Linked DNA regions of Homo sapiens. The protein of the gene in region 3 purifies or fractionates together with the protein of the main gene of each other region. This does not show direct contact. Each region holds a gene or a part of one and is shown on either strand. Other genes may lie near its edges. The genes, in order: RCN2, PPP2R2B, PRDX4, TLN1, TULP3, UGT2B7 and PSMB7.

Region 1 (3,073 bases), on a different chromosome or scaffold from region 3:
GAGTTCAGGTACAACTTCAAAGGGGAAAATTGAATGGGATGTGCACATGTTGGCTCATATGTAGTTCTGATTGGGCCAATTTGCAGGACAGAAAATGATGTCTAGATTATGATATAAATTTAAAGGAAGCCAGGACGTTCAGAGGAAAAGCTAGCATATCATGTTTGCCTTACTTAGTTCTTTCCTTTGCAGTTTTAAAAATAGGCTTTTTTTTTTTTTAGTGTAGTTTTATGTTCACAGCAAAATTGAGCAAAAAGTAGTATAGAGAGTTTCAATATGTCCCCTGCCCCACATACGTACAGCCTCCCCCACTATCCTATCCTATATGTCATGAGATAGTACCTACCAGAGTGGTACATTTGTTAAAATCGATGAAACTGTTAACATATCATTGTCACCCAAAGTGCATAGTTTACATTAGGGTTCACTCTTGGTGCTGCACATGCTCTGGGTTTGGACAAATGTATAATTACATATTCCCACCATTGTAGTGTGGTAGAATATTTCCCTTGCCCTAAAGTCTTTCTGCTCCACCTATTCATCCCTCCCTTCCCTGTAACCCCAAGCAATACTGATCTTTTTACTGTTCATAATTTTTTAGATTGTAGTAAAATACACATAACAAAATTCATCTTAACAGTTTTTAATTGTACAGTTCGGTGGTATGGTATTAAATACAGTCAAAATGTGAAACTATTACCACCTTCCATCTCCATGAACTTCATTTGTAAAACGGAAATTTATACCCATTAAACAATAAAGCCCCCTTTCCCCTTCCCTTCAGCACCTGGCAAACACCATTCTAGTTTTTTTGTTTGAGATGGAGTCTTGCTCTTGTTGCCCAGGCTGGAGTGCAATGGCATGATTTCGGCTCACTGCAACCTCTGTCTCTTGGGGTCAAGCGATTCTCCTGCCTCAGCCTCCCGACTAGGTGGGATTACAGGCGGGCACCACCATGCCCCCTAATTTTTTGTATTTAGTAGAAATGGGGTTTCACCATGTTGGTCAAGCTGGTCTCGAACTCCTGATCTCAGGTGATCCACCTGCCTCAGCCTCCCAAAGTGCTGGAATTACAGGCGTGAGCCACCGTGCCCAGCCTCCCATTCTAGTTTTCTTTTTCTTTCTTTTTTGAGACGGAGTCTCACTCTTGTCATCCAGGCTGGAGTGCAGTGGTGCGATCTCGGCTCACTGCAACCTCCACCTCCCAGGTTCAAGCGATTCTCCTGCCTCAGCCTCCCAAGTAGCTGGGATTATAGATGCCCGCTACCACGCCCGGCTAATTTTTGTACTTTTAGTAGAGACGGGGTTTCGCCATGTTGGCATGGCTGGTCTCGAACTCTTGACCTCAGGTGATCCACCTGCCTCGGCCTCCCAAAGTGCTGAGATTACGGGCATGAGCCACCGCGCCCAGCCCCATTCTAGTTTGTGTCTATTAAAATAGACTCATATAGTATTTGTCTTTTTGTGAGTGGCTTCACTTAGCATAACGTCCCCAAAGTTCACCCATATTGTTACCAGAATTTCTTTCGTCAGGCTGAACAATACTTTATTGTTTGCATATACCACATTTTGCTTATCCATTCACCCTTTGATGGACACAGGTTGCTTCCACCTTTTATTGTGAATAATGCTGCCATGAATATGGGTGTACAAATATTTCTTTGAGATCCTGCTTTTAGTTCTTTTGGATATATATTATACATAGAAGTGGGATTGCTGGATCATATAGTAATTCTATATATATATATATATATATATATATATATATATATATTTTTTTTTTTTTTTTTTTTTTTTTTTTTTTTGAGACGGAGTCTCGCTCTGTCGCCCAGGCTGGAGTGCAGTGGCGCGATCTCGGCTCACTGCAGGCTCCGCCTCCCGGGTTCACACCATTCTCCTGCCTCAGCCTCCCGAGTAGCTGGGACTATAGGCGCCTGCCACCGCACCCGGCTAATTTTTTGTATTTTTAGTAGAGACGGGGTTTCACCGTGTTAGCCAGGATGGTCTTGATCTGCTGACCTCGTGATCCGCCCGCCTTGGCCTCCCAAAGTGCTGGGATTACAGGCGTGAGCCACCGCGCCCGACTAGTAATTCTATTTTTAATATTTTGAGGAACTGCCATAGTGTTTCCCACAGCAGCTGTGCCATTTTGCATTTCCACCAATAGTGCACAAGAGTTCCAGTTTCTTTACATCCTTACCAACACTTGCTATTTTCTGTTTTTTTTTTTTTCTTTTTTTTTTTTAATAGTAGCCATCCTGTTGGGTGAGACGTGGTATCTCGTTGTGGCTTTGATTTGCATTTCCCTAATGGTCTGTCTCTACAGTTTTGCCTGTTCCAGAATATCATTCCTTTGCAATTTAAATGTGAGGATAAATGTATGCTATTGTTTCTCAAACGTTTTTGTGTTACAATACCTCCTTTTGAGTGAGAAATGTCAACTCAAACTTACACTTTTTCACTTAGGAAGATGATTTAGGAAAGCCACTTAGAGTAAAAGTTTTTAAACAACTGTAAAAACTAATTTGCTTCATTGCAACATTTGAGTTCTGTCGAATAAATATTTGGCCAGATTTCCTGCCTGCTATAAAATTTTTTATAACTAGTAACCAATTACCTAAGGGCCTCCAGTGCAGCTACTAAAACGTCTCTATTTTATTTGGCGGGGGGGGGGGGAAACACCTCAATCCAAGCACAAAAAAAACAAGTACTGCTGAATACCTACAGTTTGCCCTATCTTTATCTCAAATTAACCAGTTAGTTCCTGAGCTGTAGAAAGGAAACCATTTGAGCTTATAAAACTATTTTAAAGTGATTATGGGGATTTTTAAAAATCTCATAGCTTTTAATCATGATTTTTCATACCTTAAAGAAAAAAACCCTACTTTTGCTTTCTGTTCCACAGAGATATTTTTCTTCTGAGACCAGGTTCCAATGAACAGAGGGCATCAACATTTTGCTCAGTTATTGTACCATTAGCAGTGATTGGTAACCTAAGTAGAGAGACTGTTCCATTACAATGACACACTAAAAGCATAAACTAAGGTCTTTTTGTGCCAGCTGCTGGCCTGTC
Region 2 (3,500 bases), on a different chromosome or scaffold from region 3:
GCATGTAGATGGAAGTTACTGATCAGAAAACAAGCCCCAGTAATGACCCATAAGCTCAATGAATTAAAGATTCATTGGTTGCCTGGGATGTGTCAGGCAGCCAGGTTCTAGACAAGGGGCTGGAGTTACTAAGATATTTAAACCACTGGCCCCTGCCCTCCAAGAGATGACACTCACATAGGAGAAAGTGCATATTTGCATACTGTAAACATTTTTACAATGAGATATCTATGAAGGGCAGAAGTCATACAGAGGAAGAAATAGTTAATCAATGAGTGATAAGAAAAGGTTCTCAGAATGTGTCATCTAAGCAGAATTTTAACTAAATTTGCTCAACAAAGCATGATACAGCGTTTCCAATAGGTAGACCAACATATACCAGAATATGAAGCAAAATCCATATGGCATGGAAACAGAAAGCCAATGTTTCTCTCCTTCCATTAGAAACACATTTTCGACATACTAGAACTAGCCTACCCCTTTTTCCTTTTGTTCATCCAATAACAAATATTTATTAAACCTTATTTTAAGCACTGTATTTAAGTGTAAAGTAGACGGAAAGAATAAAAGGAAACCAATATTTCCTGAGTAGTTATTGCAATGACAGGCATTGGGAGAGGCACTGTTTTAAATCATTGTTAATCACCTGATAGGTAGATGTATTATTCCATTTTTATAGCGAGAAACAGACTCAAAAGGGTTAGATGACGTAGCAGGAAGTTTTATCTAGATCTATCCTGTTCCAGATCCTATACTTCTTCCATCACAGTTATTGGTAATGCAGAGTTACCTTGGCTTGATTATTTTCCCTAGCGTGGATACTCACAAACACGCCATTTCTCTGTGACTAAATATTGCCTGACAGCTGACCAAGAATACAAATTTGGTCTGTCATCAAAGCAGAGAGTGAAGTCAAGTGGCTCACAGGTCTCCAACTTCTGACTTTGACCTTATTATGACTGATTAACTGTCCCCCAATTTAGATATTCCATGCCCCATTGGTTAAACTGCTGGTGGCAGAACCATCATGATCTGCCATCTCCGCTGATCCCTGCCTCAGCTGCAATCAAAGCAATGATCACTGTCAGGCCAGAAGAAGGGGCTTAGCCACTGCCAAGACAGATCCCAGTCCACTCCCAGCCTTCCCGCCCCTGCTGCTCATTCCCCAAAAAGTCAACCTGGGTTTTCCTGGGTGAACAGTGCCCACTGAACAGCTCCTGCTTGCCCATCTCAAGCCCTCTCAGTTGCCACTCCAATCATTTTGGCTGCTGTATTTGGTTTGAGAAAGAGTGGAGAGGACACTTCTTCATAACTCATATTTGACAGAAACCCAGAAATTGTAGGAACAAGCCATGATTGCTGTGATTCTTGCTCTGGTTGGCTAGGGATGCCCTCCCTTCCAGCCAGAGTAATACATACTTGTGGGAGTCATGGAAGACTGAGGAAGCTGGAGTAGAAGGGAACAGGGGCTTTCCTCAGTGGTAAAAGGAAAAGCAACATTTTGGAACTCTAAACAGTTGCTCAGTTGGGCGAATTTCATGCATTCATTCATTCATTTACTAAATGGTTAATGATTGTTCATGTACTGCCTGCCAAGCCCATGCCAGGGTGGTCTGTGGAAGCAGCAGTGACAGCTCCATCTTCACACAGCTCACAGATAGCGGGAGGTGCAGACAAACTCACAGGCAATGGTGGCAGTGGAATGTCAAGAGCCCAGGATACCGAGCCTGCCAGCCTGCCTGCCTGGGTTAAAATCTGAGCTCCACCATGTAAAAGCTGAGCAACCTAGAAAAATGACAACCTCTCTGTGCCTCGATTTTCTCATTATGAGATAAGGATAAAAACGACATCTATCTCATAAAATTGCTGTGAAGATTGCATGATTTAATATGCACAAAGCTCTTAGAAGGATGCCTGGCCCACAAATATGCATTCAGTGCACATTTCTTGCTACAGTTCTGCTAATCCTATAAAACATATGCACTATGATGGATGTGTCTGGGTGCCAGGAGGACACAAAGGAGCACTAACTCATCCAGACCAGAAGCTTCCCAGAGGAGGTGATTCCCAAGGTGAAATCCGAAAGATAAAGGGAGTGAGTTATCCAGGAGAAGAGAAAGGAAAAGCATATTCCAGACATCAGGATAGGACAGTGGAGGCAAAACAGCATATGCTATATATATATGGAATTCACAACACTCTGGTATGACTGATTAGTAAAAAGTAGGAAGGCAGACCAAGAGAAATAAGGAGACATGGTAAGGTGAGTGGGCAATAATGCATGATCTGAAAAATAATAATGCATGGACTTAGTGTGGTTCACATATCAGGAGCTTCTCCAATAGCCAGGCTATGAGGCACTAAAATGAGGAAATATGGTTTCCAAACTTCGCAAATACTTATAGTCCAGCCACAGGGGATATACTGATAAACTCAGCTCAAATGTCACCTCCTCAGAGATGCTTTCTCAACCACCCTTAGTTCCATGAGGACTGCATCATTGTTTAGGCCACTCCTGTATCCCCAGAGCACAGAACATTGTCTGGCTCATAGTAGGTGCTCAAAAGTTTTGTTGAATGAATGAACAAATAAACGTGTAAGGAAGTCAGGCACAGCACTTGCCCACAGGAAGCTTATAAGATGAGCGGCATGCCATTGGGAGTTTGAATGATATATGGAGATCCAAACAGGGCATCAGAGGACTGCTCAGAGGAGTCAGGGAATTAAGAAAAAATTGGGAGCCAGTGAGCCAAGATGTGTTAAAAGCAAGTGATCAAGCTTAGATTGCAGTGTTAGTTAATAGAGCATATGTGTCCCTGCCTGATGCATTACCTTCCCTGCAGTAGTTAGCCTTCTGGGACCCTGAAAAGCATGCAGAAAGGTTGACAGCTTACAATCAATACCATGTTCACTGATGCAGGAAGCAACATTATCACATCCAAGATATTGCCCCCACACCCAGGCTGCAGCACTAAATATTCCCCATAACAAGGCAAAGGGAAGTGACAAGAGCTATTATTCTCAACCCTCCCACTTGGAAACAAGAGGTGAGACAAACCTTCCCCTAGATGTTCTTAGGGAAAGGCAAGACCCCCAAAGAAATCTTTCAGAGCTGAGCACATGCCTAATACAGCAAGACAGGGATGGGAGAAGATTGGCATTTTCATTTGCCTGGGTGTCCACAATATTGCAGGGGAAGCTCTGTGGGCAGCTGGGAAATACAACAATAAATTGGAGGGGGATGAACAATAGGGTCAGTGGGGCTGTGTGCTGAGTGAATGCTGGATTTTATTCTACATGCCCAATTCACTCCAATAAGATAAACTTGACTTCCTCCAGTGTGGCTTTCTTATTTCAGCTTCTCTGACTGTGGCATAATTGAAAGTCATATTTCATCTAGACCATTGGTTTTCAACTCCAAATGCAGGTGGCTTATGAAGACTCAGCCTGAATATATAAAGAGAACAGCAAACAATCATAGTTGCATATTAAAGACAATC
Region 3 (3,500 bases):
AGGATTTTTTCCGATTTTGGTATATCTGCATACTTACTGGTTGAACATCCCTAATCTGAACTCTGAAATGCTTCACTAAGCATTTCCTTTGAGCATCATGTCAGCACTCAAATTTTGAATTTTGGAACACTGTGGATTTCAGGTTAGGGACGCTCAATCTGTATTCTGTAACTTGAAACCAGGAGACATGGGCTGATGCTCTAACAGGAGGGTACTGACACAGCAGATAGAAAACAAAACGACATTGCTCTAGATATCTGGAGCCCCAGTTCTGACACCCAAGTAGAAATTTCTGGTTGATGTGAACCCTATCAGGCTGAGAATGTATCCCCAAATTTCCTTGGGAAAGCAATCCCAAATTATTTGGGATGCCATAACTTTTTCCTTAGTGGATATGCATTTTAATCCTCGGAAGATTTATAATTACTACAGAAGTGATGAAGCACAGCCCGGGCAACATGGCAAGACTCCATCTCTACAAAAATAAAAATTAAAATAGGTATGGTGGTGCAAGCTTGCAGTCCCAACTATTTGGGGAGGTAGAAGGATTGTTGGAGCCCAGGAGTTCAAGGCTGCAGGGAGCTATGATTGATTGTGCCACTGCACTCCAGCCTGGGCAACATAGTAAGACCCTGTCTTTCTTTTTTTAAAGGAAATGATGAAGCAAATTAAGCCTATATTTTAATTTTTTTTTTTTTTTTGAGACAGGATCTCACTCTATTGCCCAGGCTGAAGTGCAGTGGTATGATCTTGGCTCACTACAGCCTCGACCACCTAGGCTCAGGTCATCCTTCCATCTCAGGCTCCCGAGTAGCTGGGACCACAGGCATGCACCACCAGACCTGGCTAATTTTTTTTATTTTTTGTATAGATGGGGTCTCACTATGTTGCCCAGGCTGGTCTTGAACTCCTGGGTTGAAATGATTCTCCTGCTTTGACCTCCCAAAGTGCTGGGATTATAGGCGTGAGCCACCATGCCAGGCTATTTTAATATTTTTACATTAAGAAATAATCAGTACATATTTATATGTTAAGTTATTTATAATGTTTAAGAGAATTTGGCATATTAGAACTACTTAAGTATTTGGGAAGGTTTGTCTGAAAATTGAGATACTTAAGGAATTCAAATATATTAAATATATAACTGCATTTAAAAATACTTATGGGAATTAATTTCTTAGGGAAATGTAATTAATTAAATTGTAGCTCACCAAGCAATGAAAATTTGTTATACACACACAGATTATAAATGAGAAAAGCTTGTGTTTCAAATTTGTAACTTTAATAAATTGAATATTATGTTTTAAAACCAATAGTTCTGAATCTTTTTTTTTTTTTTTTTTTTTTTTTTTTTTTGAGATGGAGTTTCACTCTCATTGCCCAGTTGCCCAGGCTGGAGTGCAATGGCGTGACCTCGGCTCACTGCAACCTCCACCTCCTGGGTTCAAGTGATTCTCCTGCCTCAGCCTCCTGAGTTGCTGGGATTACAGGCACCTGCTACCACGCCTGGCTAATTTTGTATTTTTAGTAGAGACGGGGTTTCTCCATGTTGGTCAGGCTGGTCTCGAACTCCCGACCTCAGGTGATCTGCCTGCCTCGGCCTCCCAAAGTGCTGGGATTAGAGGCATGAGCCACTGTGCCCAGCCCAATTCTGAATGGTCTTTATTGTGCACAAAGTTTTCTGCACAAGACTGTGGACACTATAAAAACTCATATTAACATGTAAATTTCCAATTTTGAGACATGTTGCCCAACTGCTCTCCAGAAATGCTAAACAGCTGTGTGTGAGTGCCGTTTCTTCAATTTTTGTCCACAGTGGATACATTTTTTCAATCTTTTAAATCTTGGCCAACCAGACAGGGAAAATTGGCATCTCGTCATTTTAATTTGCAATTCTTTATAACGAATTTAGGTAAAACATCTTTTTATGATTAATGAATTTTTAAACATTTTTTAAAATTCATTTTTAAAAAGTATTGTTTCTTCAAAATTGTAAAAGCTGAGTTTGACTATATAACTGTGTAACAGAGAAATGGCATATTTTAAAGATTTTTTTCCTCCAGATTATGGTAACCCAATTTATCATAAGCATATAATTCAGTGGTTTTCGCTATAGAAATCACATCTATTGCATTTAACTTTTCCCCTTATTTTGAAATGTCCTATAAAATCCTTAAGCATTTTTATTATAGCAGCTGATTATATTACTCTTCTCTCTTTTTTTAACCTGGAAAATGTGTAGTTACATGTATTACTCTTAGATAAAGCTATTCCTGAATTGTCTGATAAATGACTATATTCTTATATCATATCAAGAGTTATCTGTCCATGCTTTAAGAGTAAATCCATTCTTTTTTTTCTACGAATATAAGTGTAAGATACTGACCAGGCCAAATGGGTAAACTGTGAATCAACAGAGCATGCTACCACTTCAGTATTTATAGATCTGAATTCTTCAAGTCTGTCGCCAAAAGCGATAATTTCAGTTGGACACACAAATGTGCTGAAAGGTAAAAAAAAAAAAATATTCAGTATTCTCCAAATAAGCATATACCTAAACTTTCAAATGACAATTTTTACAAATACCTTTAATAATAAAAATGCACATTAAGAACAATTTTATATTTGAACCTTTTCAAAATGGAGTAGTCTAAAAGACTGTCATTTAATCAAATATTTAAGACAGAAACATATTACAGAGTTCCCAACTACATCTCAATAAACTTTCTTATTACAACTTAATAGATCAGTAGTCAACCAATGTTCCCTTCTCCCTTATAGCAATAGCCACCCCTCATTTTATTACTTTTATTTAATAATACCTTTTATTTATATAGTATTTTATAGCTTTCAAAGGATCTATACAAATTTTATGTCATTTCACTATTTTTTTTTTAATATTCCTATACCAACCCTATGAATTAGATGCATCTATGTGTATTTTGGAGAGGAGGCAATGTTTTCCAGTACCCCCACCCCTCCTTTCTTGATAAGGTCCTCTTCCACCTTGTCTACCAGTCCTGTGCAGCCAGGGATTTTATACCTTAATACCCTCATGTTGTCAGGCCATGTTTACAGAATATTACTAGGGTGGCATTTTTTCAAACCGTGGTAGGGACTCCTTAAATTAACTGAGTTCTAAAAAATATTTTTAAAAAGTGAAATCGAATAGAAAACAGGAGACTCTATCATACATACTAAGGGTAAATTATGAAACACATATTTATATATACAAATATATATGTTTGTCTTCAACAGTGATGATATTCAAAATATTTAACAATCTTAACTCAAAGCTGGCTTTAGTTCTGGAGGTTTCTGAAAGGGATCAGGCAGGAGGACTAACTAGTTGGTGAGGAAAGGGAAGTGGCTATTTACCACATGATATGAGGGTTTTTCAGTATTTTAAGGAGCATGGCTGTGCTGGTGCATCCAGATGGAATGTTACCGTATATATATGTGCCTGTGTACTGGCTGACAACGAAAAATGTATTTCCTAC
Region 4 (3,500 bases), on a different chromosome or scaffold from region 3:
CATGGTTGCACTTTCACTGAAGATCAGCATTGGGAATGTGGTGAAGACGATGCAGTTTGAGCCGTCTACCATGGTGTACGACGCCTGCCGCATCATTCGTGAGCGGATCCCAGAGGCCCCAGCTGGTCCTCGTGAGTCTGACTCCCCCGGTGGCTGGAGTGGGAGTCTTCAGTCCCTTCTTGTTCCCAGGCTCTCGGCCTTGAGAGTTGACCCCTTTGTCCCCTAAGACTACTCACCCCTCAGGTCTGTGTTCCATGGTTCCCTCGTTCTTTAGGCCCAAGGTCATGGGAGAAATAGTCAGGGGCAACATGGTACAAGCTGTTCAGCCACATTGGGGTCTTCATAAGCCTAAAGTGATCCATCCTCTCTTTTAGCCAGCGACTTTGGGCTCTTTCTGTCAGATGATGACCCCAAAAAGGGTATATGGCTGGAGGCTGGGAAAGCTTTGGACTACTACATGCTCCGAAATGGGGTAAGTATCCTTTCATCAAGGACCACCACATCCCCTTCCATCAGCTTCTCCCTGTTCCACCTCCTGTTTTCAGCACCCACATCTGTTGTCTCTTAGCCCTCCCCATGCTTTCTTCCTATTAACAGACAGTCATAATTCCCTGCTTTTGAACGAACCACCATAGTCTTCCTTTCAGTGCTCCACTCTCTCCCCTCGGGCTGTGTAAAGAGGAAATAATACCCCTAGCTCAGAGTAGGCCCCTGTCTCTTCTTCCTGCCCTAACAGGACACTATGGAGTACAGGAAGAAACAGAGACCCCTGAAGATCCGTATGCTGGATGGAACTGTGAAGACGATCATGGTGGATGACTCTAAGACTGTCACTGACATGCTCATGACCATCTGTGCCCGCATTGGTAAGGGGCCCTAGTACAGTTGAAAGCCTGGGCCAGAAAGCCTCAACTCTCTCAAAAGGCATGGATGCAGTACCTGGGAAGCTAACAAGCCATCTCCTTCCTCAGGCATCACCAATCATGATGAATATTCATTGGTTCGAGAGCTGATGGAAGAGAAAAAGGAGGAAATAACAGGGACCTTAAGAAAGGACAAGACATTGCTGCGAGATGAAAAGAAGATGGAGAAACTAAAGCAGAAATTGCACACAGATGATGAGTGTAAGCAGAACTAGAAAAAAGAGGGCTTTTGAAATGGGAAGGGTGGGAAGGGGCTTCAGCATCTGCTTCTGCCAGGCACTGTTTTACACCCTGGGGATACATCAGTGAGAAAACAAAGTCCTACACTCATGGGACTTACATTTAAGTGAGGGGAGGTAGGAAATGCAGAAATAAACAGAGACCAGACAGCACAGGGGCCATGGGGGTTTGGCACTGAGGGGACTGTCTGTATCCCAGTGAACTGGCTGGACCATGGTCGGACACTGAGGGAGCAGGGTGTAGAGGAGCACGAGACGCTGCTGCTGCGGAGGAAGTTCTTTTACTCAGACCAGAATGTGGATTCCCGGGACCCTGTACAGCTGAACCTCCTGTATGTGCAGGTATGCAGAGGACTTGGCTGGGGTGGGGCAGGAATAGGGAGGGCTCGGAAGCACAGTGTGCGTGTCCTTGCACCCACACACAACATTCGCCTCCTTGCCCTGTGCTCTCCAGGCACGAGATGACATCCTGAATGGCTCCCACCCTGTCTCCTTTGACAAGGCCTGTGAGTTTGCTGGCTTCCAATGCCAGATCCAGTTTGGGCCCCACAATGAGCAGAAGCACAAGGCTGGCTTCCTTGAGTGAGTGACCCACATCCTATACCCTGTCAGGGCCCAGGACTCCCTGCCATTGTGACCCCAGTGGGCCTGTCTCCATTCCAAGCCTGCCCCCCACTATTTCTTCTTCCGAGGTACCAGGGTTTGACCAACATAGCTACCCTTTTAGTTGCCATCATCCATTGTCTCTTCTCTGCCTCTGGAATATGAATGTAGTTCAGTATCTCTGCCCCTACCCCCATCTCTGAAGCAAGCATGTCACTCTTTTTTGAGATTATCTGAAGAATTTTGCTGCAGTAGCCAGAGGGAAACCGGGTAAAATTTTCCCTATAGGGAACATGGGTTAAAAGTCTCACAAGCCTCATCTGCTGGTGTTTCTTGGAATGCAGAGTTTGGCGTGGCTTTCTCAGCTTCCTAAGTGCATGTTCATCCTTCTAGAAAGCTCTTTCTCCTCTTGGTTCCCTGAAATGGTGCTCTAGACCCACTTTCCCTCAGGGACTGAGCCTCTAACTTAATTTTCCTCAGTCCCTTTCCCTACAGGGAGAGACACAGGTCACATTAAGAATTCATACTGGCCAGGCTCGGTGGCTCACACCTGTAATCCCAGCACTTTGGGAGGCCAGGGCGGGCAGATCACCTGAGGTCGGGAGTTCGAGACCAGCCTGACCAACGTGGAGAAACCATGTATCTCTACTAAAAATACAAAATTAGCCAGGCGTGGTGGCACATGCCTGTAATCCCAGCTACTCGGGAGGCTGAGGCAGGAGAATCACTTGAACCTGGGAGGTGGAGGTTTTGGTGAGCTGAGATCGTGCCATTGCACTCCAGCCTGGGCAACAAGAGTGAAACTCCATCTCAAAAAAAAAAAAGAAGAGTTTACACGAAGTCACCTCTATTTCAGAAGATAATCTAGACTCTATTCCCTCAGAGTCTTTTTTCTCCCCAAAGATAACACTGTCCTAGGTATTTCCTCATACCCCCAGGCCCACAGTTCATGGCCCACATGTCCCCTGATGCTGTCTACCACATGCTGACCCTCCCTTTTCTGGTGTAGCCTGAAGGACTTCCTGCCCAAGGAGTATGTGAAGCAGAAGGGAGAGCGTAAGATCTTCCAGGTGAATGTGGGTAGGGGAAAGTATTTGGGATGACCGCGGAGCTTTGCTGCTTAATCTTACTGACTAAATGGCCCCCTGCCTCCTCCCCGTCTCCCCTAACTTGGCTTTCACCCACCGGGCTGTTATCCCACCTCACCTCTGCCAAGAAAGCAGACAGCTTGGGCTTTTAGTCTCAGCTCCATCCCTGCTTTTGCTGTGCAATTCAGTTCAATATTCTTGTAATCTTTTATTTACCTCTGATTTGGGATAACAGTACTTGCCCCGTGTAGGACTGATAGGATCAAATGAGGTAGCATAATCTGAAATTACTGTGAAAGAGTATAGTCTTTGTCCACTATAAGGTGTTACCCCCACTCTGAATACTCAGCCCAGAAGGCCTTCTCTTTGCCCTTCTACTTCCAAACTCTCTGTTCATATCTCCAGAATGTCTGCAAGTTCCTTGACTGTATCCCTTGACTCATCGCTTCTGCATAGCCCTTATCAGCCTCCATCCCGTTACCCTCTCGTTCTCATATCTTGTACTCCTCAACCTTTCCAGTGTCCCCATAATTCTCTCTCGTTAGAGTTAGCATCCAACCTTAATTCCTTAGCTGTGATATGAAACTCTTTGCTAAATTCTTCCCCATTTTATGCACAGGCACACAAGAATTGTGGGCAGATGAGTG
Region 5 (3,500 bases), on a different chromosome or scaffold from region 3:
ACTTTATCACCTTTCAAAAGCTTTCGAATGTTGGAAACCCAGAAATTTCTAATAATTTCCCCTGTATTAAAAAAATCTTTAGGCTGGGCGTAGTGGCTCATGCCTGTAATCCCAGTACTTTAGGAGGCCGAGGCAGGTGCATCACCTGAGGTAAGGGGTTCGAGACCAGCCTGGCCAACATGGTGAAATCCTGTCCCTACTAAAAATACAAAAATTAGCCAGGGGTGGTGGCAGGCACCTGTAATCCTACCTACTCAGGAGGCTGAGGCAGGGAGAACTGCTTGAACCCAGGAGGTGGAGGTTGCCATGAGCCGAGATCCTGCCACTGCACTCCAGCCTAGGCGACAGAGCGAGACTCCAAAAAAAAAATTTAAAAGTCCAAAATTGTATTGTTATTGAAACATTGTTAAAATGTGTTGTCACTCTGCTAGTTGCACTTAAGTACAGTTCTACTTAGTGAATATTTAATACTGCCTGCCAGGAATTATATTAAATATATATTATTTTTCACATATGATGTGTGATAATTTTCACGATAACCTTGACAAAGTAGGCACTATAATCTCATTTTACAGACAGATATGAAACTCATAGATGCTCTAAATGAATTTCGGGAGAAAGGAGGTGAACTCCTTTCATATGAGTTTCATATCTCTCTGTAAAATGAGATTATAGCACCTACCTTGTAGATTTATTGAAGTTTCTTCCTGCAAAGCTAAATAGCAATAATTTTATTTTTCCAGGAGCATATTTGAAAAATATTTCTTGCTTTGTTACAGCCTTATTTTCTACACATCACAGGAAAGCAATTTTAAACTTACAACTATAGTTCATATTCTAAAGGTCAAACAGCTGATCAGCGAAAGAGCCCAAATTCAATCACAAGTCTCACTCCCAATCTACCTGAATGTGTTAAACCACACGACTGAACACGTGTATTAAAATGGTCAGCAGAGACAGGAATTTCATTCTCTGGTATTTCAATATGTTCATTAAAAATGCCAGCTGACTTGCTATTTTTAGGTAGAACTTCCAAGCCAGTGAATGGATTTTTAAGCAGCCCTGGGGAGGAGTGCCCTGAATAACGACATTTAGGTCAACCATACTGCATATACAACAGGGGTCCCCTAAGATGATAACACCACATTGTCAGCCAGGCACAGTGGCTCACGCCTGTAATCCCAGCACTTTGGGAGGCAGAGGCGGGTGGATCACTTGAGGTCAGGAGTTCAAGACCAGTTTGACCAACATGGTAAAACCCCGTTTCTACTAAAAATACAAAATTAGCTGGGCATGGTGGTGCACGCCTGTAATCCCAACTACTTGGGAGGCTGAGGCAGGAGAATCACTTGAACCTGGGAGGCAGAGATTGCAGTGAGCCGAGATCATGCCATTGCACTCCAGCCTGAGTAACAAAGATGCGACTCCGTCTCAAAAAAAAAAAAAAGTATTCTCACTGTACCTTTGCTATGTTTAGATATGCTAATACTTACCAGTGTGTTCCAATTGCCTACAATATTCAGTACAGTAACAGGCTGTATAGCTTTGTAGCCTAGGAGCAACAGACTGTACCACAGGGCCTAGGTAGGTAGTAGGATATCCCATCAAGGTTTGTGTACACTATGACGTTCACACAACAAAATCCACTAATGACACATTTCTCAGAATGCATCCCCATCATTAAGTGGCAAATAACTGTATAGAGTGAAAGAGGCATCAGATTTCATCATGTTCAAACTGATAACAATTTCAGATAATTGTGGAAAGAGCTATTAACAAAGTATGTTTCCTAACTCAATTGACAAATAGGTTCACCTTGTCCAAATCCTAAATGTCAATATTCGAAGGCCATGTTTTTACACATACTGACACACCAAGAACACATCTGGCTTGAACAAAATATTGCTTCTGAGAAAAGACACATAAAGGTCATATGAGAAGTGTCAGAAAAGAATTCCTTTGACATCTATCCTTCCTCATCTAGGGAGAAATGTTAGTATTCTAAGCTCAGCTGTCCTCTACTTGAAAGACGGCCACAATCTGGAGCTAACTTAATTGAAGCCAGGGAATGAACATCCATTTCCTAGGAGGCCCATTTAGTAGAGACACAATCAGAGCAGGGAGAACTGCCTGGGGAGAGGGAGGCAATGAGAAGCAAAGGCTGGCCGCTGATTTGAGCATTCCCATAGCCCCAAAGAATGCTGCAGGGAAAACTATTTTAGAGTAAACCCCTCCTGATTTTGCAAGTACCACACAGCAAAAGCAAAAAGCATTCTTTTGAGTGAACTAAACAAAAAGGCTATTTAAGATGTATGATTTAATCCAGAAGTTAAAAGAATGCATTTATTACTTGTAGATTCAAACAGACATTACTCAGAACTTAAGTTCGTTTTAACTTTTGCCCAATTCTCCCTTCTCAGGGGTTATATTTTCTCTCTTCGGGAATGTTATTTATTTTCACTATTTCTTATTTTTATTTCATTTTATTTTATTTTTCAAATGGAGTTTTGCTCTTGTCGCCCAGGCTGGAGTGCAGTGGTGTGATCTCGGCTCACCGCAACCTCCGCCTCCCAGGTTCAAACAATTCTTCTGCCTCAGTTCCCGGAGTAGCTGGGACTATACGCACACACCACCATAACTGGCTAATTTTTGTATTTTTAGTAGAGACAGGGTTTCGCCATGTTGGTTGGGCTGGTCTTGAACTCCTGACCTCGTGATCTGCCCACCTCCGCCTCCCAAAGTGCTGGGATTACAGGCATGAGCCACTGCACCTAGCCTATTATTGAGCTTTTTATCTTGACAGATCTCTTTTTTGTGTGCGTGCGTGTGTGTGTGTGTGTGTGTGTGTGTGTTTTTGAGACGGAGTCTTGCTCTGTCACCCAGGCTAGAGTGCAGTGGCACAGTCTTGGCTCACTGCAACCTCCACCTCCCTGGTTCAAGCGATTCTCCTGCCTCAGCTCCTGAGTAGCTAAGATTATAGGCACCTGCCACCATGCCTGGCTAAGTTTTGCATTTTTAGTAGAGATAGGGTTTCTCCATGTTGGTCAGGCTGGTCTTGAACTCGTGACCTCAGGTGATTTCCCCCCCCCCGCCCCGCCCCCCCGCCATCTCGGCCTCCCATGGTGCTGGGATTACAAGTGTGAGCCACCATGCCCAGCCTACTGTTTATATTTCTAAAGAGAAATCATGGTATATGGACAAACCACCGACTGGGATTTCTTAGATGACTCCAGCTCACAAGGTCACACCACAGTGGGAAGCACGCCTTCAATTCTCAATTCTCTATCACTTACAAAAGGCCAGATAGGGCTCAAGTTCCAGCACCAGCCAACCCCCGTCATCTCCAGGGAATCTATATTATAAAATGCCTAGCCTCAACAAAGGTCCTGAGTGTTGTTTCAAATTTCACCTCCAATTTTCACTAAACATTTCTGATATAAGAAAATAGGCCAAGCCTGGTCGCTCACACCTGTAATCCCAGCACTTTGGGAGGCTGAGGC
Region 6 (3,500 bases), on a different chromosome or scaffold from region 3:
TGTCCAAGCTGGTTTGTGTTCTTTTTCAATTATTTCCTATCTTCTTTAAAGGTATTTTTATCATTCATTATCCTTCTTTTTTTGTGATAAAGTATTTTTCAAGTATTCCTTTAGATGATACCCTGCTTATATAAAAAAACATTATTGATAGTAGCTATAAATGCTGAATTGATGGTAGCTGGACTCCACAAGGAATTTTGCACATTGATATCTTTGGGTTTGAAAAAATCAATTATTAAAAATTTAACTTAAAATTATATTTTTTGTGCTTCAAAGACCAACATCAAAAAGTAAAATTTAGTGCACCCAGAGTGGGACAAAATATTTACAAGTTATATATCTGACATGACCCATAATATATAAATAGTTCTTAAACTTAATAATAAGACAAATAGCAAAGTTTAAAAATGTTCCAAGGATTGGATAGACTGTTTTCAAAGAAGATATATGAATGATCAGTAGGCACGTATGAAGATTCTCAACACCTTTAGCCGTAATGAAAATGCAATCCAAGACCAGGATGAGAGATCATTTTACACCCACTAAGAAGGCTGTAACAAAAAGTCAGGGAATAACAGGTTTGGCAAAAGTATGGAGGAATTGGAACCATGTTGTACTGCTGGTGGTAGTCATGAATGAAACAAGTACTTTGGAAGACAGTTTAGCAGTTCTTCATAAACATACAGTTCCCACATGAAGCAGCAATTCCACTTATAGTATCAACCCTAAAGAAAGGAAAACATGTTTATGCAAAAACATGTGTAGCAATCTTCCTAATAGCCACAATTGAAAACAATCAAAAGGCCAATGAACTGATAAGTGAACAACTAAAATATGACATATCTTTACTAAAAAATATTAAACTGCTATAAAAAGAAATGAAGTATTAAAACACACAACAACATGAATGAAACTAAAACCAGAAAAAAAAAACAACAAAAAATTAGCCTAGGTGAAATGTCATTTCACAACACCCTAAACTGTATGATTCCATTCATATGAAATATCTAAAGAGAATAATCTATAGAGAAAGGAAACAAATTAGTTAGACCAGGGCTAAGCGGTCATAGGAAGTGACTTCTGTGTCATTGCAGTTTCTTTTGTGTTGATAAAAATGTTCTAAAATTATGTAATAGTGATGGCTTCATGGCTCTGTAAACATACTAAATATATTTGGATTTTATAACATAAACAGGGGGGTTTTATGCTATCAAAATTAAATCTCATTTTCAAGTCTGTTACAATAATGATAATAATAAAAGTTAATTTTTCAGCAAGAAAATGGTTATACTCTGAGGTGTTTTAGATATCTAATTAAAATATTTTATTATATTATTTCAGGTTTATTCTTCCTTTCTTCTATGGATTAATTATGTCAAATTTTTAAGAAATGTATTTTTTGTATTATCTATATCCTTTTAAAATTATTTTTGTGTAGAAAATTGTTTCACTAACTGGCTATTCTTTAGATGTATGTGTTTCAAATTCAATTTTTAAATAACTTATAAAAATAAAAGCAGATTTCAGATTGGTTAAATCATTTAAATTCTTTCAAAATTAGTCTCTTATAAAAAGGATGAAACTCACACTCACTATTGACAAGAGAAGCTATCTGTAAATACCACCTAGTGAAAAATATTGTTCTACTCACGAAGGATCATTAATTACTCTCTTCAATGCATTCAGCAAGTCTGTACTCGACATTGTGTTGAAGTCCACTCTAACAGCTGCTCCCCTGGCCTTCATGTGAGCAATGTTATCAGGTTGATCGGCAAACAATGGAATCCCCACCATAGGGATCCCATGGTAGATTGCCTCGTAGATGCCATTGGCTCCACCATGAGTTATAAAAGCTCTGGTCTTTGGATGACCTAGGATTGGATGAATTTTAGCAAAATTACTCATAGGAATAAAATGAGATGCACAATGAAAGGCTCTGAAAGTGACAGTGTTTTCCAGCTAAAACACTGAACTAAATTAAAATTGTGTTTCAGACTTCGGAGGAAAAAACACGTACTTGTACTGGGTATGTAACTGAAGGCTATACGGTGTGTGTGACTTCAGACTGCAAAACAATACAAGATTTCCAGTTGGGCTAATGAAAAATTGCATTCTAGATTTCAAAAATGTGCAAAAAAGAAGACAGCAAAGAGATAGGCATGAAGTGAACTCTTATTTTAAGTGCAGTCACAGAGTGTGATATATGGGGTGGGCAAGGCAGCAGGCAGTGGTTTGGTGGTGGTGCTAGGATTGAGGAAGGACAGGTCACACTTCATCGTGAAATGTATCATCACTGTATGATTAAGATTAGCAGTTTAATTCTTCAGAAAATACAGAGTCACTGGTGATAGAAGAGCTATTATTTTTAGTGGCATTTCAAATAACCCTGCGGGAGAGGAAAAAAACAGGTGTAAAGTTGTAGAAATAGGAGACAGAGAGACAGCCCAGGAAGTTATTGAAAAATTTTGTGAGATATAATAACACCTGAAATAAAGATTCCCCCGATTCAGACTATAAAGAATGTGGGTGTATATCATAAAATGCCAAAAATTATAATGTATTCTTTCTCCCTTAAGACTGGAAAATCAATATAAAGAAGTTACATTTTGTTTTTCCTTAACAAATATTCAATAAGCTTGTTTCATGATGAACTATTAACACTCTAATGTGCTGTTACTAATATATTCAGTATTTGTTCACCAGAGTCTTACCTAGAAGGTCATTCTGGGGTATCCACTTGTAGAGCCGAGTATTGAGACCTAAGGTATCTGGTTTATTCCCATCAAATCTCCACAGAACCTGTTACAATAAAGAAAATATTTTATTCCATGAGTGGAATTCAAAAGTTATAGAATGTGAGAACTGTATAAAGAGTAGGAATGAGATCAAGGGATGTTAGTAAATAAGAACTACTCAAAGACTAATGTAAATAGAATACTCACATTAATTTTCTCAACTTTTATAATTAGTTAGGTATATAAGGAAATCATGATTTTCCAAAATAGTACCTTAGAAAAAATCAGATTATCAATGAAAATTTCAAGCATTTAAAAAATTGTTACACCTTTTAAAAGAAAACCTACGTGTGGCCAACCATCATATGAAAAAAAAAAAGAAAAAAGCTTAACATCATTAGAGAAATGCAAATCAAAACCATAATGAGATAGCATCTCACACCAGTCAGAATGGCTATTATTAAAAACTCAAAAAATATCATGATACTGGTGAGGTAGTATAGAAAAGGCTTGCTTATAATCTGTTGGTGGGAATGTAAGTTTGTTCAACCATTGTGGAAGACTGGCGATTCCTCAAAAACCTAGAGGTAAAAATACCATGAAACCCAGCAATCCCATTACTGGGTATATAACCAACGGACTATAAATGGTTCTTTTATAAAGACCCATGCACAGGTGTATTAATTGCAGTACTTTTCACAATAGCAACGACATGGAATCAACCTAAATGCCCATTGATTATGGGCTGAATAGAGAAAATATGGT
Region 7 (3,500 bases), on a different chromosome or scaffold from region 3:
GAGTATGCATAAGAAAAAAAACATGAGTCCACAAAGCATCACTGTAACTTAGCCAAAAGTTGCATGAGAAGTCAGGTAACAAAAAGTTTTCCTTAAGACTGTTTCATTAAGGGGTTATTGTTTTGATGGGAACAAAAAAGGGAAGGGAACATTAGATGAACATCTACTGTCAGCCAGTATAAACTATAAATTATGTGAGGCACTCCACACACCTGATTTCAGCTCAGCCTCACAGCCCCCATTATTATTATTTTTTTGAGACAGGGTCTCACTCTGTCACCCAGGCTGCAGTACAGTGGTATTATCACGGCTCACTGCAGCCTCAACCTCCCCAGGCTCAAGCAATCCTCCCACCTCAGCCTCCTAAGTAGCTGGGACTACAGGTGTGCACCACCACACCTGGCTAATTTTTGTATTTTTTTTTGGAGAGATGGCGTCTCGCCAAATTGCCCAGGCTGGTCTCAAACTCCTGGACTCAAGCAATCCTCCCACCTTGGCCTCCCAAAGTGCTGGGATTACAGGTGTGAGCCACCACACCCAGCCCACAGTCCCCTTTAAAAGACAACATTATCATTCCCATTTTAGAAAAGAAAAAACCAACCCAGAGACATTAAGAACTTGCCCGGTCTCAGAACCAAATTGGACTGACTCCAAAGATTATCAGCACTTTTCCCATCACACCTCTCTGTGATCAGCACATAAGCTACCTCCACAGTTAACAATGAGGAGGTGCTAAGCTCAGCTGTTCCACTGTTCAAATTATCAACCTGGCCACAAAGGCCAGGCATGGTGGCTCACACCTATAATCCCAGCACTTTAGGAGGCTGAGGTGGGCAAATCACTTGAGTCCAGGAGTTCAAGACCAGCCTGGGCAATATGGCGAGACCCTGTCTACAAAAAATACAAAAAATTAGCAAGGCATGGTGGCATGTACCTGTAGTCCCAGATACTTGGGAGGCTAAGGTGAGAGGATCCCTTGAGCCTGGGAGGCAGAGGTTGCAGTGAGCCATGTACACGCCACTGCACTCCAGCCAGGACAGAGCAAGAGTTGTCTCAAAAAAAAAAAAAAAAAAAAAAAGTATCAACCTCACCACAGCCCAAACAGAAAAATGGCTCATGTCGAAACACCTCTGCCTTTGAATTAACCCATATTATAATTACATATATGAACTCGTATCAAAAAAAAAGTATTTCATCATTCAGGAAAGTGAATATTAAAATAACTCCATGATAGCCTAAGAAACCACTGCTACTACACATAGGATAAACTTACACTTCCTCAGGAACATCACAGGAATATATTTTCCACCCACACCATCTCCACTTAATTGTGCACATATTTGTTCCTTTGGACCCTTTTTTTCCATTTCTATAGATTCCTTTCCCTGTATTTGGTACAGCTTTTTAACATTAGGAGGCCAATGTTACTCCTAACGTGGGAGGCTGAGGCATGAGAATCGCTTGAACCTGGGTGGCCGAGGTTGCACTGAGCCGAGGTCGCATCACTGCACTCCAGCCTGGGCAACAGAGTGACACTTAGTCTCAAAAAATAAAAAATAAAAAAAATCAAAAGAAGAATTAGATCTACATTTGTCAACATAAATTGCTCTCAATTTATCTAGCTGTGCTAGATAAACATGCTGGATTTAAAGTTCTCCACTGTGAGCCTTTAGCTCTTTGGGAAGGAAAACAAAACTGACACATACTGAATTTGCCAAACGATGTAATCATTAAAATACAAATAAATTAACATGAGAACCAAAGTCATAACTTTAGACTGTCTGAGACATGGCCACACATCCAGAAGTGCTCTAAGTAAACAGAACAGTGGTCCAATACTTGCCCTGTTCCTTGATTACCAAATTGTTATTTCATTTGTAAGTAAAAACTTCAAAAACTTCCTAGGAAAAGATTTTAGCAGTAGCCTAAAAAGAGAATAGAGCCCCAGACAAGGGAAGAAACTGGTCCAAGGCCCCACGTGTGAGCTAGCAGCAGGGTCAGACTAGGGCCAAGGGCTCCAGGAAGAGAAGCCACAATCGCCAGTCCCACCACCCCCAACTAGTCCAGTGCCTATTCCACTATGCCAACTGTCTACTGAACAGGGTGTTTAAATAAAGTTAATAATAATCAGCTACTTGCCTTCTAAGCTAAAATATCAACTGTTAGATGCCTTTAAAATAATCAAGATGTTTTGGCAAATTATTGAAGTCATTAAAATTTTAATAATTTATTGATCCACAAATTCTACTACCAGGACTCTATTCTAAGGATATAAACAGACAAATGTACAGAAATGAATGCACAAGGATGTTTACAACAGCATTGTTTATGATGATTAAAAAAGTGGAAACAGCCAGGGAGAAATGGCTAAACTGATCCAACTGTACAACAGAACATCACCCAATCATTAAAAATCATGCTAAGCCGAGTGTGGTGGCTCACACCTGTAATCCCAAAACCTAGGGAGGTCATGGTAGGAGGATTACTTGAGGCCAGGAGTTTGAGACCAGCCTAAGCAACATAGTGAGACATCGTCTACAAAAAGTTTAAAAAAACAAACACAACAAAAAATTAGACAAACATGGTGGCGTGGGCCTTTAGTCCCAGCTACTCAGGAGGCTGAGGCGAGCAGATGACTTGAGCCTAGAATTTTAAGGCTCAAGTCATCCACCATGCACTGCCTTTAAGTGAGCCATGATCATGCCACTGCACTCCAGCCTGGGCAACAGAAAGAGACCCTATCTAAACTAAAATAAAATTTAACAACCATGCTGCATTTTCTCCTGCGCTACTGACGGTAGTACAACGTTTGTCAAGGGAGAGCTTTGACAACATCTTTCAAAATGTTAAATGTGCAAAACTAAATAAATGTGCATTTATTCTAGAATACAGGCTAAGGAATTAAATCACATGAGTACCCAAGGCTTCTATGTTCCAAAGGTTCGTAGAATACCTAATAATACCTTAAATACCTTAAAATGGGCAATATCATTAATGTTTAAAAATTGGTTAAGTTGTAACATAGCCACAAAACGGATACTATGACACCACCAAAAATTATGATAATGATTAATGGTTCTTAAGCTTTTATGGGTCAGAGAGCCCTCTTAAAAATTGATTAAAATTGTGGAAATTTTCCCCCATAAGAGTACACACAAACATTTTTTCTGATTTCAGGAGAGTTACAAGTATTCAGAACTTCTCTATGGGCTCAAGAGAAAAACTCATCTACTGACAGGAACAATATTTGTAACATACCATTATGTAAACAAGGGAAATTACAAAACAACACATACAAGGATATATATCTAGAACAAAAGGTATGAAAAAACAGATCTTCAAAAATTTACAGTGTATGTGTCTAAGTGGCAGAACATCAGGTGGCATTTACTTCCTTCTATCCAGGTTTCTAGTGTCTACGTTTTTTACAATTATATTATTTTTATAATTTTAAAAAGTTATTTTCATTTTGAAATGCCCTAGTATAGAACCCATTCAAG

Evidence for each region.
Region 1: the proteins of PRDX4 (region 3) and RCN2 fractionate together in Homo sapiens (co-fractionation; one large-scale study listed by BioGRID). This does not show direct contact.
Region 2: the proteins of PRDX4 (region 3) and PPP2R2B purify together in Homo sapiens (pull-down; one large-scale study listed by IntAct). This does not show direct contact.
Region 4: the proteins of PRDX4 (region 3) and TLN1 fractionate together in Homo sapiens (co-fractionation; one large-scale study listed by BioGRID). This does not show direct contact.
Region 5: the proteins of PRDX4 (region 3) and TULP3 purify together in Homo sapiens (co-immunoprecipitation; one study listed by IntAct). This does not show direct contact.
Region 6: the proteins of PRDX4 (region 3) and UGT2B7 purify together in Homo sapiens (co-immunoprecipitation; one study listed by IntAct). This does not show direct contact.
Region 7: the proteins of PRDX4 (region 3) and PSMB7 fractionate together in Homo sapiens (co-fractionation; one large-scale study listed by BioGRID). This does not show direct contact.

The regions. Positions count from the first base shown.
Region 1 is NC_000015.10:76,951,821-76,954,893, forward strand, and holds the end of RCN2 (reticulocalbin-2 isoform a precursor), read left to right. Parts: 3' UTR 1-2,573; downstream 2,574-3,073.
Region 2 is NC_000005.10:146,581,758-146,585,257, reverse strand, and holds part of PPP2R2B (serine/threonine-protein phosphatase 2A 55 kDa regulatory subunit B beta isoform), read left to right. Parts: 3' UTR 1-3,500. UniProt on the Homo sapiens protein: The B regulatory subunit might modulate substrate selectivity and catalytic activity, and might also direct the localization of the catalytic enzyme to a particular subcellular compartment.
Region 3 is NC_000023.11:23,673,993-23,677,492, reverse strand, and holds part of PRDX4 (peroxiredoxin-4 precursor), read right to left. Parts: intron 2,504-3,500; coding exon 2,387-2,503; intron 1-2,386. UniProt on the Homo sapiens protein: Thiol-specific peroxidase that catalyzes the reduction of hydrogen peroxide and organic hydroperoxides to water and alcohols, respectively.
Region 4 is NC_000009.12:35,722,196-35,725,695, reverse strand, and holds part of TLN1 (talin-1), read left to right. Parts: 5' UTR 1-1; coding exon 2-131; intron 132-374; coding exon 375-472; intron 473-736; coding exon 737-866; intron 867-971; coding exon 972-1,124; intron 1,125-1,361; coding exon 1,362-1,504; intron 1,505-1,616; coding exon 1,617-1,744; intron 1,745-2,774; coding exon 2,775-2,835; intron 2,836-3,472; coding exon 3,473-3,500. UniProt on the Homo sapiens protein: High molecular weight cytoskeletal protein concentrated at regions of cell-matrix and cell-cell contacts. Involved in connections of major cytoskeletal structures to the plasma membrane.
Region 5 is NC_000012.12:2,893,891-2,897,390, reverse strand, and holds part of TULP3 (tubby-related protein 3), read right to left. Parts: intron 1-3,500. UniProt on the Homo sapiens protein: Negative regulator of the Shh signaling transduction pathway: recruited to primary cilia via association with the IFT complex A (IFT-A) and is required for recruitment of G protein-coupled receptor GPR161 to cilia, a promoter of PKA-dependent basal repression machinery in Shh signaling.
Region 6 is NC_000004.12:69,106,474-69,109,973, reverse strand, and holds part of UGT2B7 (UDP-glucuronosyltransferase 2B7 isoform 1 precursor), read right to left. Parts: intron 2,800-3,500; coding exon 2,712-2,799; intron 1,872-2,711; coding exon 1,652-1,871; intron 1-1,651. UniProt on the Homo sapiens protein: UDP-glucuronosyltransferase (UGT) that catalyzes phase II biotransformation reactions in which lipophilic substrates are conjugated with glucuronic acid to increase the metabolite's water solubility, thereby facilitating excretion into either the urine or bile.
Region 7 is NC_000009.12:124,405,443-124,408,942, forward strand, and holds part of PSMB7 (proteasome subunit beta type-7 precursor), read right to left. Parts: intron 1-3,500. UniProt on the Homo sapiens protein: Component of the 20S core proteasome complex involved in the proteolytic degradation of most intracellular proteins. This complex plays numerous essential roles within the cell by associating with different regulatory particles.